Regions from separate parts of the Homo sapiens genome. Here all the other regions are linked to region 3. Evidence: fine-mapped expression QTL. A gene starts in region 3. Each other region holds a variant in brackets. All regions are shown on one strand. Distances are from middle to middle.

Region 1 (5,339 bases), 30 kb after region 3:
GGGATTACAGGCATGAGCCAAGCTTTCTAATAGAGGAATCATCTTTTTTTTAGAACCAATCAGGATTGTTGGCCACAAGCAACAGGAACAGACTGTGGTTATCTCATGTGAAAAGGGACTTAATTATGGCTTGACTTACAATTTTTTGACTTAAAATGATACAAAAGTGATATACATTCAGTAGAAAGTGTTAGGATACACTTGCGATGCTGAGCAGAGGCAACCAGCCCCAGCTCCCAGTCAGCCACCCAATCACGAAGCTAAAAAAACTCATACTTTATGGTGTGCAGTGTTGCCAGATGATTTTGCCAAACTGTATGCTGATGTCAGTGTAATCAGTGTGCTTAAGGTAGGCTAGACTATCCTGAGATGTTCGGTGGGTTTGATGTATTAAATGCATTTTTGACATAGGACATTTTCAACTTATGATGGGTTTATCAGGATGTAAACCCATTGTAAGTCAAGGAGCATCTGTATAGTGAAGTGATGATCTTAGAACGGACTTAGGAGACTAAAAGCATGAGCTGGGGTAGGAGACAGGATCTATAGTCAATGTCATGTATCAGGAACAATCTGGCCCATGTGTTAGTGCTCTGATCTGCTTTAACTGCAAATGTTTCCTCCATCTGCACCTCATTTTCTAAAGAATCAAAGTCCTAGGAGGAAGTACAGGATTGGCCAACCTCAGGTCATGTGTTTCAGACTGGGCAAATGTACAGGTCAGGAGTCTTGCTCTGTCACCAGGCTGGAGTGCAGTGGCACAATCTCAGCTCACTGCAATTTCTGCCTCCTGGGTTCAAGTGATTCCCCTGCCTCAGCTCCTGAGGAGCTGGGACTACAGGCGCACACCGCCACACCTGGATAATTTTTTGTATTTTAGTAGAGACGGGATTTCACCATGTTGGCCAGGATGGTCTCGATCTCCTGACCTTGTGATCTGTCCACCTCAGCCTCCCAACATGCTGGGATTACAGGCATGAGCCACCACGCCCAACCCAGCCCTTCTTTTTCTAAAGGAGTAGCCATAAAGACTTTGCCAGTGAACCCTCTGAGTGCATCCACAGATGGCTCACTGTTTTGTAACCTAAAAGTGCCTGTGCAGACTACGTGCCCATGGCCTGCCTCTGGGACAGATACATAGTTGTTTTCCAGAAGACTGTTTTGGAAAGATGAAGAAATGAATTCTGCCATCAAATCCAGTTGTATCTTTCAGCTTGTTAATGCCACATAGAGCTTTATGCTTCTATTACCTGCACTAAAACACACCAGTGTCACTTAGTGAACTTTTTAATTGGCTTTTTAAAATAGTAATGTAATCAGGCTCCTCATGCACAAAAATCTGCAGACGGGCTGAAAGGGAAAATGTGAATCACAGTTTAAATACATGCTTTTCGACTGCTTTGTAAGACAAACAGATGTATTAATTAGCACATACTTTAGGGTATGTTATATACTTAAATGGAGGAAAGCGAACAGAATATCATCTCACCAGAGGCAATAAAGATTTGAGCTCTGACCCTAGAAACAAAATGGCATCTTGTTTTCAGAAATGCCTAGCTGTGAGAACAATGAGTCAGGGGCTTAGAGGAATGATCTCTGGATTTATGTAACAAGAAGGCTCTTGTTCAAGTGGTATATAAGAACTAGACCACAGCCTTAGTAATGTGGGGAAAGCCTTTTAAAGTAGATCCATATGAAGAAATTCAGTAGTCACAGAGCTAAGACATTTTCAAAGGTCTTTAGTAACAAAATTGTGCTAATGCCCAGGACTTAAGAATAAAAAGATTTAGACTGAAGGTAGAGGTGAGTCCTTGGTGTGCATTGTATTATGCTAAGTGTTATTGAAATAATTTAAAAAATGGCAGGGTCTGTACCATGTAGGAGATGACATTGAAGGGATCACATGGACATAATTATGGATTTAATGCAGCATATTTTTTAATGAGAAATTAGTGTTTTGTTTTTTTTTAACTGAAAGATCAAAAGAACTCTTTTCCTTAGAAGGAAGAAAATGTGATTCTTCCTTTTCTTGACCTTTTATGGCATTCATTCTTGCCCACCTTGGGCAGTTATTTTTGTATAGGTCTTGTCTTACTGGACTTCAAGAATGAGATAAAGGAAAAAGGACTATGTCTCATTTCTTTCTACTCCATCCCACACATAATGCTTCCCTAGTACACAGAGAATTCTCTGTATGTGTGTGCTGAATGAATGAATCATCAAAGTCAGTAAAGAAGACATAGGGCTCCTTCAAGTCCAGAAAGAATCTTCCCGTATCACTTTAGACGAAACTGTGTGAACTTGGCAAGTAAATGCACCTCTCTGGGGCTTCCCAGTAAAATGAAATGATGAAATGTTGGTAAAATAGGGAATGGTAAATTGGTTTCAACTTACATGCCTACTCAGTCAATTTCTCTGGACTCTAAGTCTGGATGCTCTTTTTGGCCGGATTGCACACTTCTGATATGAGAAGGCACGACCTTGCCTGGTGGGAAAGAAAGTGGCATATGGGAGCATTGTGTCTATGTCCTGCTCATCTGTAGGTTGCTGTATCTACGTTGTTTTAGAGAATGAGG[A/G]AGGAAATGACTTGTGAAAGTACAACATTAACAGAATGCAAACATTGTGACAGTCTTCACCTGACCTTTGATGTAGATATTTTCTTACCCTTTAGAAGATTTCCTAAAAGAAAAGCCATGTTTATCCAGTGCTCAGGTGACACTGAGCAGAGTAGGCTGTGGTATACGCTGGATTTCCAAATGCAGGCTGATGGAACCTCATGCTTTCACTGATAAGAACCACCTAAAATGCTTGTTTTAGGTATGGCTTCCTGAGTCCCACCCTACAATAAATTAATTAAAATCTTGAGACTAGGGTTCAGGAGGAATATTTATGCTAAGAAAATTTTCCAAGATGATTCTGACATGAAGCCAAAATTGGAAAGCACTGTTTTTCATGGCTGAATCATAGTCCAAAAGTATCTGAACAGGGTGAAACAAACATGATGAAATGTCAGAGACAAATGTAAATCCCTTAACTTTACAATAACAAGAACTGGGAAAACCTAGGCCGACAGCAGCATGTGTAATACAACTGCAGCTTCAATATTTGGTTGCCTGTAAGCTCTGGCTGAGCCAACTCTGAGATACAGCTTACCAAAACAGCGACAGTGGTGTTAGGCTGAAGGCATAGGAATATAATGACGAAGCAAAAGACAGCTCTCTTTCCTATTCTGTAGTTTCAGAAGACAGCTGCATTGTGTTCTTGATTTAGTAGGGGTAATTGTTATTTTTAGTAGCAATATAGAGTAGCTGTAGTAGTAATAACAATCCTTTATGCAGCACTTCATTATTTATAAGTTTATATTCAACATTTTATCCGCCCTAAATAAAAACTTCAATTTAGCTGTGTTATGCAATAGAGCCCATTGGTGGACACACTACTCAAACCTACATCTTTTATCCCCCAAGTCTCATGTCGTGTTTGGCAATGTGGAGAATTTACAGGCCAGGAGAGTAAGATAGCCGAAAACCATGCCATCAGAAAAAACAGAGTTCCTTACCCAGAAGAAGACTTCATAAGGCCTTGCCTGTTGTCACCGAAGGCCTGGTGGGTTTCCACAGGGAAGAGAGGGCAGACTTGTCACAGGAGGCCTCAGAGGACAGAACTTGACCAATGGTAAAAGTTACAGGGAGACATACCTTGGCCCACACCTTGACCCAAAATATTTCTTAATCATCAAAGTCCCCGAAAGATGAAACAGGCTACCTATAGGGAGATTTTGGAAAACTATGTACTAGGAATGGATGGGGAAGAATTTGGGGTGGGTGACTTCAGAGGTCTTAGAAGGGACCCTGAGTTGTGCAACCTGGGCCCATGCAACCTTCTGATGATTAGGGCTGCTGAAACAGCAGGGCTGAAGGCAGGAGTAGTGGGATAGAATGGCCTCAGGTGTGGGAAGCTGCCACTCTGCACCCAAGTGACTGAGAGCTTCACCTGTTTGCCCTGTGACCTGCACTGGAGAACCTCATACTTTAGCCTTAGCTAGCACATTGGGAGCAACCTGATATCCTGTATGCTTTGGGGAACCGCAGCCTTTCTCCTTTTACATGTGTTTAGTGAGCCTTGATTTAGTCGTAGAATTACAGATTTCTAGAGCTTAGAGCCAACTCAAAGACCACTTAGAGGTCATTTGGCCCAACCTGGCCACATTATAGACAGGGAAACAGACAGTTAAATCTGTGACTTAAATTATAAACACCATTAAAAATTAGAGTTAGAGGCCAGGCACAGTGGCTCGCACCTGTAATCCCAGAACTTTGGGATGCCAAGGTGGGAGGATAACTTGAGGCCAGGAGTTCTTGACCAGCCTGGCCAACATGGTGAAACCCCATCTCTACTAAAAATAAAAAACATAGTCAGATGTGGTGGAACATGCCTGTAATCCCAGCTACTTGTGGGAGGCTGAGGCATGAGAATTGCTTGAACCCAGGAGGCGGAGGTTGCAGTGAGCTGAGATCGTGCCACTGCACTCCAGCCTGGGCAATAGAGCAAGACTGTCTCAAAAAAACAAACAAACAAAAAACAAATAGAGTTACAAGAGAACCTCAGGCCATGCCCCATCTGGCCACACCCCTTCATTTTCCTGAGAAAAGGAGTGATTAACTAAGATCACTAAATGAGAGATGGCATGGCCAAGACTGTAGCCCCGTCCCTTGTCTCTCAGTGTGATGTTCCTACTGCTGACACGTTTCATCTCCTCTTTTCCACTGAGGACCTGTTCCTTCTGTCTCTTCCACTAGGGAAAATACCCTCTGCTTTGGGATGCAGGGAGGCTGGAGCTGAGCTCACAGGGGGCCAAATCTGTCCCTCTATGCCACAGTGCCACCTTCTCTGTGAGCCTGGCCTCAAGAGAGTGTGCAGCACTGCTGTGACTGTGGATGCAAAGAATCCTCCAAGCACGCAGCATAACAGAGGTGTTTTATAAGCTGCAACTCACACCGCTAAACGAACACACTAAACATTATTCCAGGTAATTCTACATGCTAATTCCTCCCTGAATTATTTTCATGTGTGTATTTGTGCGCTTGAGCCCAGAGTTAGTATTATGGGTGGAAAATAGAATGTAACTTTATAGTAGTGAATTTTTTAATGAGGTGAGGGGATAAACAGTGTTTAGCAATTTTCTTCTCCTTCTTTCCTCCCTTCCACTTTTGCTCTCTCCTTTCCTTTTTTCTCATCTTCCTTCCTTTCCTCCTGAATTCTCCAACTCAGGGCTGCAAGTATTCATCAACTGAAGAACGAATGTCCACCCTCTAAGAGCTTGTGCATATAGCCGCAAT
Region 2 (5,339 bases), 720 kb before region 3:
ATATAAATGGACATAAATATAATCCTCCTAAGCTCACTTGATATGAAATACAGGTATAAGAAGAGAAGAGGCCACCCATCTTGGCTCCCATGTAGAAGTTTGCTGCCCCCACTCAACAAGAGAAAATAAGAATGTCCCTAACCACCGATGCATTTTTTACCCTTTACCATTAGTTTAAGGATCTCTCAAAATGCATGCACAGGTACAGGAATGGAATGTTTTGGCCATTTCTGGCCTAGAGCAAAGGTAGACTGATGTCTGCCAAGCAGAAGGGCCACCAGTGGGTTCGGTGTATTTACTTCAACTGCAGTAAGAAAATAAAATCCTAAAGTTTGTGGGGAGTAGTGGTTTGCTGTACTTTCTAAAGGAGACAGCATTGTGGAGAGCAAAGATTGCTAGTCCAGGGGACAGGCCTCCTGAGCACCACCCACAGTTTTGCTACAGTCTGCCTCAATGCACACAGGCCGACTGCCACTCTGAAAATAACTTCTGCCTTTTCTACCTTACCAAGCTGTTAAGAGGATCAAAGAAGATAATGGATCAAAAAAAAAAATGCAAAGAACTGCATAACTGTAAAGGAATATACTACCGCTGACAGCTCCTCTTAGGGTCCATTTTGAAAAGTGTTATATAACAGTTAAATGCTGGCCTTTGTCTTTGGAGAAAATAGAAGTTTCTTTGGAAAATAAATACATAGTACTTCATCAAGAGGTGTGTGTTTGCTAACTTTAGTATAAACTCTCAAAGGCCACAACAGCTATGAACCTCGCCTCTGCTATCTACCATGGTGGCAAGGAGGTCAATGGAGTTCATGTCTTCATTTGACATAGAATGAAATTTAAGTTAACGGGGTATCCAGAACACAATAGCAGCAATGGTTATACTCTGCGGGAAGTTTGGCTTTACTGAAAAGAACATGCAGATATACTGCAGCTCTAGAGGCGTTCAGGAAACTGAGCAATTAGTAGTGCATGCTAACAAATAAATAAATCTCCATGACTCTGAACAAGAAGTTCTAACCAAAGCCTCAGAGCCAAAGTTAAATGTTCAATAACACCATTTCTCACTAATTTAGTATTTCACAATTTACAATGTCCTTTAATATACAATTTTGTATTTCACTCTCACAGCCATATTTGGAGGAGTTAAGGACTTGAGTCCTTTCTTCCGGTGAGCAAGCAGACTGAGAGAGGTACAGTGACTTATTCAACAGCATGTGCTCGGAATACTAGTGTCAAATCTAAAACCCAAGTCCTATGAGTACAGGCACTAAGGCCGTTCTGAGATTTAGTAATTGCTACATCTATGTAAACCTAGCTCGAACGAGCCTTTCAACGCCTGCCACAGACTGGCAGGGCAGGGCTGTCAACCAGACCTCGCATCGGTAGCAGTGAACATGGAAATCTCGATCCAAAGCCACAATACGGACAGTCTCCTCCTGGCCCGGGGCTGGCATAATAGGCTCCTTGCACACAGAACATCGCGGGGCAAATTTCCTGAAAGTGAAGAGAGAGTTCTGGTTAGATACTGCGCGTCGACACTGAGGTGGGACGCAGAGGTAAAAGGAAGAGGTGGAAACTGAGAGTCGGTATACCTGCTTCCTCATCCGTAAGGTGAGGGAGTTAGACTCAGGGACTGTGGAGGTTCTTCCATCAATCGGTGGTAAATATTGTGATATTTGGCGAGGTGAGAGAGTGAGCGTGTGAATTGCTTGGGCATGAAGAGCATCTAGCATCTCTTTCCTGCATGGTGCGCGGTATGAAATTCATCTTTAGATAGATTCTGAATGCAAACCCTGTGCTTGGGATAGGCTAACTGGAGGAGAGAACAAAGTCCTGTCCAGCCCCTATTTGTTTCTGACTTTTGTTTCTAGACTTTTGTATGCACTCCTTAGGTCCTAGAAAAATAGTCTGAGGTTGGTATCTTTGCCTTGTTCCCACCTTTTAGAGCTTCTTTCTTGGAAATTTGCCTTGACTTCTAGGAACTGACATAAGAAGACTCAAATACATAGCTTTTCAAAAGGGCAGAGGTTAGTGCGTTTAAATATACATTACACAAAACTTAAAAGTGGCCAAGTCTGCATTTCCTACATTTTTTATTGTGTTAAACTTTTGCTTAAAAATTAAAAGTTAAAGAGCTATCAAATTCTTTATTCTTTAAAGGATTTTAGCACTGTTAAAGGGTGAGTGTATACTAACACACATACACATACATATACATATAAATATGCATATGCATATGTTTTTGAGGCTGCTGGTAAATACTTTTAATACTTATTAATTTCTTAGTATTTCTCAATATGATCAATGGTACCTAACAA[T/G]TTTTTTTCTATGACAGGTTAATTGGCTGAAAATATAAGCCATGTATCTCTCTGTATCTTCTGGAAATTGGAGATGGTATTTGTGAAGGTATGAAATGACATATTATTTGAAATGGACCTGGATAAGAACTGAAGAGATTTAAAAAAAGAAAAACAGACTGTGACTCAGTTTTTTCATGGTACTGGTTTTAAGATAAACGATGTTAAAAATTTATCTATTTGTAGTGAGACTTAAAAAGAAATAATGATAATAATCTAACTCTTTGCAGAGCACGTTACGGTTGTCAAAGCATTTCTACATACATTATATTCTATATGTAGGTAATTAATTTTCCTGGCAGCACCCAAAAAGCATCTGTATGGCTGCAATCTAAATAAATATGAATTAAGCAGCAGATCAATTGATTGCTGTGAAAGAAAAGTTAGAAGGATCATGGTACCACTGCAGCAGTAATCAGAGTTGTTATAATTGGTATTTTATGCAAGAAGTTTATATTCAGTGGCAAAAAATTGCTTTGGACTACCAGATTATTTTTAAATCTGGGTCATCAGTGGTGAAATAAGTAGGCTTCTGGGATCAACTGCAAAATTTCCTTTCCCCAAACTCTGTGGGAGCAGAAGTATGTTTTCCTTTTCAGTGTATCCATAAGCCTTCTCCAATTTCCCCAAATAGAATTATTTACTCCTCTAAGATAAGAATTCTGTCATTGAATTTATCCATTTTGGTAGTAATTATTTGGATATATTTATGGGGCACTAAACTCTAAGTTTCCACAAGATAGGACTTTGCTCCATCTCTGAGTCTCCAGGAACAACCACTGTGACTGGTGCAGAAAAAAAAAGTTGGGCTGTATCTAATGAAATGAATCTGCCATATTTCTGTATAAAAAAAGATATTAGTTGGGCTTTATGTTCAATCTCAAGGTTCTTCCTCTTTGGGAAGACATAAACTGTATTCTTGCTGAGTAATGATTCTTTCCTACCAATTGGCCTCATTTCCATAATGAGAAAAACCAAAGCGAAGAGGCAGGAGGTGGTTCTCATAGTCCCCACAGTGTTCCTCCGATAGCAATTCGAGGAGGGCTCACAATCCCAGGTGGTCTATTTCAAGGCTTAGCTCACTGAGTGGACAATAATCGTAAAAGTAAATTTGATGAAAACAACTTTCGATGATTAAAGCTACCATTTATTGAGTGCTTATTATGTGCCAAGCCCTGTTAAGTGCTGTACACACTTGACGTAATTTTCTACTGACAGCAACATTATGAGGAAGTATTTTTATCATTTCTACTTTACAGCCAACAGAGCGAAGGCTCAGAGAGGGATGATCTTGGTCATCTTGTATTCCGGCACATTTCTGGCAATCAACTAATGGATGCTGATTAAATACATAAATGAATGAGGGTAATATTCCTGATAAGAAAGCACAGATAGGGGAATAAAGCCTCCATACATGCAAAGAGTCAGTTAAAGAAATCTGCTTTTCTGGGTTTTCTCACTGGGAATACAAGAATAAGCAACGACTTCCAGTACAGACCTGAGAAGGAGTTCTATATATTTCTGCAGTATTTCTATTAATTTATATATACAAATCCTTATTGCAAAAATGATACAAGATGATTATTGTAAAGTTATATATATATATACACAAACACACATATGTATATACACACACACACATATGTATATTTCTATACCAGTCAGACTGTGGTAAGTGCTATCTACAGCAGACTTATAAAACTCTATAAAACACAGAGATTAAGATGTAAATCTAAACTTGAGAAAAGGGAGGGGTGGAGATCAGAGAAGTTTTCTTCCAGGAAACGGTAATTGAGTTGGGCCTTTAAAGATAACCATTTAGGTGAAATGAGAAAATGTGTACGTGTGTGTTAGGGTAGGGGAGATAGTCTTCCAGAAGACTGCAGTGGTTGCAGCGGTCATCTGAAATGACATATGTGAAAGATTGCATGTCCAGTAGGCTGGAGGATATGAGTCAACATTGACCAAAGGTGTTTATGTAGAGGATGGTCCATTAACAAGTTCTCAAAAACAGTATTCCAGAACCTTGTTACACAAAGTGCAGGCCATGGGCACCTGGGAGCTTGACAGAAATCCAGAATCTTAGGCCCCACTCCAGACCTGAATTAAAATCCAAAGTTTAACAAGATCCCTCTGTGGATTACAGGCACATTAAAGTTTGGGAAGCACTGGTTTAAAACGCAGACTAAGGCTGGGTGCAGTGGCTCACGCCTGTAATCCCAGCACTTTGGGAGGCCTAGGCGGGTGGATCACCTGAGGTCAAGAGTTCAAGACCAGCCTGGCCAACATGGTGAAACCTTGTCTGTACTAAAAATATAAAAATTAGCCAGGCATGGTGGTGGGTGCCCGTAATCCAAGCTACTTGGGAGGCTGAGGCAGGAGAATTGCTTGAACATGGGAGGCAGAGGTTGCAGTGAGCTGAGATTGTGCCACTGCATTCCAGCCTGGGTGACAAGAGTGAGACTCCATCTCAAAATAAATAAATAAAATAAACAAATAAATAAATAAAAGGCAGGCTAAGCAGGTGAGGTAAATCCCTTCTTATGGGTCTCCTGTATCTCAAGGTAATCTCTACTCCCAGGCTGCTCTAGTTACAGCAAAGCAAATCTCCCTGAACACAGAGAACCCTTTACTAACTCTGTGCCTCTGCTTTTTGCCTGAGTTGTTCCCTCTGCCAGGAATCTCCTTGTTTCCCACTTAAAACACTCTTGACATTCTCCGTCCACAAAGCCTATTCTGACCACAGAGCCAGGTGATCTGACTTTGACAGTGCAAGCCCTTACCTGTGCCTGTCTCATGGAGTTCAGCCCTTTCTCCCTGTCTGCACACTTTCTCTGCCCTCCTCCTGGCAAGCTCCTTGCTGACAGTGACTTCTCTATATATATCTGCACAATTTCTCTCCTTGTATCTCTCTCCTTCAGCATTTAATGCAACAATTGGCACACAGAGGGTTCTTTATAAATGTGAGTTGAACTGAATT
Region 3 (5,236 bases):
GAAAGATCCTACTCAAGTCCCAGCCACAGCAATCAGCTCATCAGCTCAGCTTCTCCTCCCTCTGCGTACACTCAAAACCAACTCTAGACCCATGCTGCTTACAGAGAGCCTGCCTCTGGGGGGACTGCCAGACCCTAAGGCCCCAGGCTTTTACCCCTACCATTCAGAATAGGTAATCCCCTCTGGAGCCTACATTCTAGACTATAAAGTTTTGGGTGTTGGGGTTGGGGCCTGCATTGTAGAAATTAAATGCAAAAATGCACACTCTCCTTTGTTTGTTGTTGTTGTTTTTTGTTTTTTTTGAGAGGCAGTCTCCCTCTGTCGCCCAGGCTAGAGTGCAGTGGTGTGATCTCAACTCACTGCAACCTCTGCCTCCCGGGTTCAAGCGATTCTCCTGCCTCAGCCTCCCGAGTAGCTGGGACTACAGTTCCCCGCCACCACACCCAGCTAATTTTTTGTATTTTTAGTAGAGACAGGGTTTTGCCATGTTGCCCAGGCTGGTTTCTAACTCCTGAGCTCAGGCAATCCGCCCGCCTTGGCCTCCCAAAGTGCTGGGATTACAGGCGTGAGCCACCGTGCCTGGCCCACACACTTTTTCCTTTAACTGCCCCCTGGTGCTGGCAGGAACTGTGCAAGCAGAAAAACTGGTGACGAAGTGGAGAAAACCATATTGGATGTCCTAACCCCCCACTGTCCACCATTATTGACCATAGGCTCTAGGTCTAGCACCCACCTTCGTGGACCTTTACCTATTCTTCTATCTATAAGAGTTGAGGAAGGGGGAGGATGGGAGAGGGAGCTAGATGCTTTGTAAAGGTGCCTAGCCACACTTTCCCCTTCTTCACTTTAGGCTTTCTTAAAATGCACATGTGCAGGGAAAGGTAAGCCATTAAGTCATCAACACCTTAGTGAGAGTGAATTTTACAGGAAAGGCAAGAGATTTAGTAAAAGGGGAAGGAATGGAAAGAGAAAGGGGACTGGAAACACAGTTAAGTGAGTTTGGTACTAGCAAAAGCCCCAGAGAAGACCCTGAGTTCTCGCTAGTTGTTTTGTGTTGGGGGAGGGAAAGCAGTGGATCCCTTCTAAGGGAAGGGAAGCCAGAGAGATTTTTCAGTTCTCCTACGACTCCGAGGTTCCAAAGACTCTGCCCTGTCCAAGCACCCAGGCACAATTCCACTGATTAGCTCATCTCATATCACAACCTCCCCCATCCCCAACCCCTTGCCTCCAACTAAAGAATATTTATACTTTCATCTCCATTTCCCACACTACTTAGTCTTCTCTGGCCCACGGTTCCCTCGAAGAGATGTCTTCCTCCAAGCCGCTAGCTGGCTTCAGGAAACTCCTCAACCTCCAAAAACCCCATTCAGTGCAGGACTCTCCAAAAGGCCGTCCCAGGGACCAGAAAATCAAACCCCCTCCCTGGAACTTCCTTTAACTTTGTCCACGCCTTTGCTCCAGCACTTAGCATTTTCTACCCTAGGCCAGGTTTGACTCCCAGGTTCAACTGAGTTCCTTGAGGGCAACGTCCAATACACCCAGCACAGGGTCTGCCACACACAGGGTGCTAGAGAAATGCTTAGAGAAAGGGAACTTAAGTCCGGAGCCAACTATTTGAATTATGGTCTGGCCTCTAGTAAATAACTTCCGGGCGACCCTCCTTCTCTCTGGGCCTCAGCTGCCCCAACTGTAAAATGGGAGGACTTGGAGGACTGGGTCTAGGCCCTTTCCGCTGTGACAACTGTGATTCCGCGAAAGCTCTAAGCGGATGGGCGTGGCCCCGCCCCCTGGGCGCCCAGAAAAGTCCGGGCAGGGGGCGCGCAAGGCTCCAACCCCGCCTAGCCTGGGGTCGACGCTTTTGGAAAAACTCTGGGTCCCCCTCCCCCATGGCGTGCACCCCGTGATTGGGCCGCGGCCGGCACTTCCGCACAGCGGGCCAGGCCAGAGCAGGGCGCGCGCCCTGCGCTCTTGCCACCCCGGAGGCGCTCGCGCCGGGGGAGGGCTGGGGGTTCCCGAGGCGCCCGCGGGTGGAGGGTGAGGGGAAGGAAGGATTTGCAACAATACCTCAGGGAGGAGGCAGCCGGGGCAGCGGCGGTGGTGGTGGCGGCGGCGGCGGCGGCGGCGGCGGCTGGAGGCGGAGGCAGAGGCAGAGGAGGAGGTGCCCGGGCACTCCCCCTCCCATTGTCCCCAGCCCCGGACAGGCCCGGCCCCGCGCCCCACACTGGCCTCCTCGAGCGCGCCGCCCGCGCCCAGCGCCCCACGCCCCGCGCCCCGGGCCGTGCAGCCAGCCCTTACCTTGCAGCGCCCGGCTGTCTCCCGATCGCTAAAGCTACTTATCCCGGGAAAGCTCGCGCGGGACCCGGGAACGAACCCACAGACAAAAAGTGAAACTTCGGCAGGGCTGGAGCGGCTGCTGGTTGGTGCCTTTCCCCCTCCTTCCTCCCCACCGTCCCCACCCCCTCCCCTTGGTCTCCCGTGCGGTGCCCTGAGCGCTGGAGGCTGACGTCAGGGGCCTGAATTCCTGACTTTGCCTGCACGCATTTGTCCATGTAAGGTATGGGAAGGCGTGTGCCCGCGAAGCCGCCGCGCAGAGCTCGCCTGGCGGGGGAGGGGAAACCCGCAGCCGGCAGTGGCTTTGCCAAAAGGTGGGCGCACTGAGGGCATTGCATTTCCTGGGAGGAAGAGGAGGAGACGCGGGAATGCAGGGAGCTTGCAAAGGAGGAAGAGAAAGAGGGAGATGTGGAGACTTTGCCCCTGCTAGAGGAAGAGGAAGGAGACGTAGGAGGAAGCGGCCGCGTCAGGGGGCTCCTGGAAAATGGAAAAGCCTGCGTCTACTATTAAGGCGTCAAATTAGGGCACTGAGCTTGAGTGGAAGAGATCCAGCCATGAAATCCCCTTCCAAGATTTTCCTCGTGAGCCCCGCCCTGGATTCCCAGCAAGACTCAAAACTTACAAGGTGTCAGAGCTGGCAAAGACCAACTTCCAACCCGTCCGCTTGGCACGTGAGGAAACTGAAGCTCTCGGAAGAGAAATGACTTGTACAGGGTCGTCACTCAGCAGATCGAGGAGCGGGCCCAGGCGCTCTGCCTCCCACTTGGGTTCCCGCCTCCAGGAAGGGCCCTGGCTCCCTTTTAGCCCTGAGCCTTGAAGCAGGTTAGATGCCCGCGAGCTGTGCGGACCACCCAGTGATTTCTACTGCTCTTGGCCCAGAGCCAGTTCCTGGAAGGTCCTGGTTGACAGCGAGCCCTGAATATCAATGACAATCAGTTGCTTCAGGGCAACTTCCTCTGTCCTGTGCTCAAATAAATGAATCCCTGGAGTTTAACGTTTACTTCTGAGCCCCGCCCAGAAAGCTTGCTCTGTGCTTATAGCTTCAAAAAAGTCTGCGAACGAGATGAACTGGTTTGAATACAGACAAGCCTGTCATTGGAAGTTTTGAGTTGGATTTTTCTTTCCCCTCTGACATCTGTAAGGGTGAACGACGATGAGAACCACCACTTAACTGTGTTAGGGGATTATGACGCGCAGCAGCCATGGCCAGGAAAGCATTCCATACCCTGAGACTTCCTTTCCTTGCACTTCTCTCCTATTAATATCTAAAGTAATCCCTCACGTTAGCACATAATGAAAGCAGTCTCTCACCCGGCTATTGCATCTTCAGGTGAGTTAGATAGGACAGAGCGTAGTCCCCCCTTTACACCTCAGACAAAAACTTAAGAAACGTTACTCGCCCAACACAAAACAACTGACTGACCAAGCACCTGTCTTCCCCTCCTCCCATCCAGGTCTCCTGACTAATCCCTTCATCTTTCCATACCTGGCCCTGACCTCTAGCAGGACCTAATTCCATTCATAACTGTTGAGAGTACACCATGAGCTACTGATTCATAAAAACTCCAAAAAGTGGTTCTTCTGAGGATGGACTTTAGTGGGATTCTTTTGACCAGGAATTAAGGAAATAATGTAAAAACACATGTTATTGGATTTATTAAGCACCTTCCTTGTGCTTAATAAGTGTTTGAATTCAGACATTTCAGGGGTAAGACTACTTAACCTCTGTGTTCCTCTCAACTATCTAATGTACACATACAAAAATATGAACATGGCTGGGCGCGGTGGCTTACACCTGTAATTCCAGCACTTTGGGACGCCGAGGCGGGCAAATCACCTGAGGTCAGGAGCTCGAGCCAGCCTGGCCAACATGGCAAAACCCCATCTCTACCAAAAATACAAAAAACTAGCTGGGCGTGGCGGCGAGCGCCTGTAATCCCAGGTATTCCGGAAGCTGAGGCAGGAGAATTGCCTGAACCCGGGAGGCAAAGGTTTTAGTGAGCCGAGATTGCGCCACTGCACTCCAGCCTGGGGGACAGAGCAAGACTGTTGTCAAAAAAAAAAAATATATATATATACAAACACATATATATACACATATATATACATATATACACATATATATACATATATATACACATATATATACATATATATATACACACACACATATATATATACACACATACATATATATATATGAAGGCAGTAACAGAGAGATAAGGTCGAGAATAACCACCCATTCCACAGACTAATAAAGAATTTATCTCTTTGCAACTAACATAGTTTGAAATGGGAGATACGGGCTCTTGGAGAGAGTTTTTTCTGGGGTTCTGAAAAGGTCAGATCCTATCAAAACACAATCCACTCACTCAAACATTTCAGCGTACTCACATTCTGAGTACTACTGTTTAGTATGAAAAGAATTCCAGTGTTACATGAAGTAAAAATGGATTATCTCAATCCTCATGGAATATAACGGGACTTGACCAGCATTTCCTTTTTTTTTTTCCTTCAGTAACTCACTTATAAGGAATAATAGGGTCCTAATGAGGATTAAGATTTAATAAGGTGTAATTAGAGTTGTTCATTTCTTCCATCATATACATTATAAGAGTACTGTGCCGGATCCAGAAATGCTACTAATTATGTTGAAACTGTTGTATGGGTGTGTTGGGGAAGTCACTGTGTTTCTCCTCCTGAAATGTTTATGAATTGCTCAGGTGAGCATGGTGAGCATGGTGTTAGCATGAACATCATATAAAGTTAACTACAAAAGATAATTCTGACTCATGAGGAACTTCCCAAGAGTACAACCACCCAAGTCATAATCTGGATGCTTAGTGAACTGCATACAGTGTTGTCGTCAGTGCTAACCCTACCAAAAGCCTCATTCCCATTTACT

Evidence for each region. PIP is the estimated chance that this variant, and not a neighbour inherited with it, causes the effect.
Region 1: its variant is the best candidate, but not a certain one, in a credible set for the expression of LPP in whole blood (INTERVAL, PIP 0.58).
Region 2: its variant is the best candidate, but not a certain one, in a credible set for the expression of LPP in whole blood (INTERVAL, PIP 0.51).

What each region holds. Positions count from the first base shown.
Region 1 is chr3:188,120,619-188,125,957 of GRCh38, reverse strand. No RefSeq gene overlaps it. Among named protein-coding and RNA genes, the nearest start is that of LPP-AS2, 31 kb to the left of the region's middle. The variant A/G (reference allele first, on the strand shown) is at 2,577.
Region 2 is chr3:188,868,800-188,874,138 of GRCh38, reverse strand. It overlaps LPP (LIM domain containing preferred translocation partner in lipoma), which reads right to left. Exons shown (of 12, transcript NM_001375462.1): 11 at 1,376-1,496. Among named protein-coding and RNA genes, the nearest start is that of TPRG1-AS1, 76 kb to the left of the region's middle. The variant T/G (reference allele first, on the strand shown) is at 2,321.
Region 3 is chr3:188,151,081-188,156,316 of GRCh38, reverse strand. LPP (LIM domain containing preferred translocation partner in lipoma) reads right to left here and starts at 2,160. Exons shown (of 12, transcript NM_001375462.1): 1 at 2,065-2,160. It overlaps LPP-AS2 (LPP antisense RNA 2), which reads left to right and starts at 2,229. Exons shown (of 1, transcript NR_036497.1): 1 at 2,229-5,111. RefSeq lists enhancers at 27-925, 2,725-3,625 and a silencer at 1,953-2,292.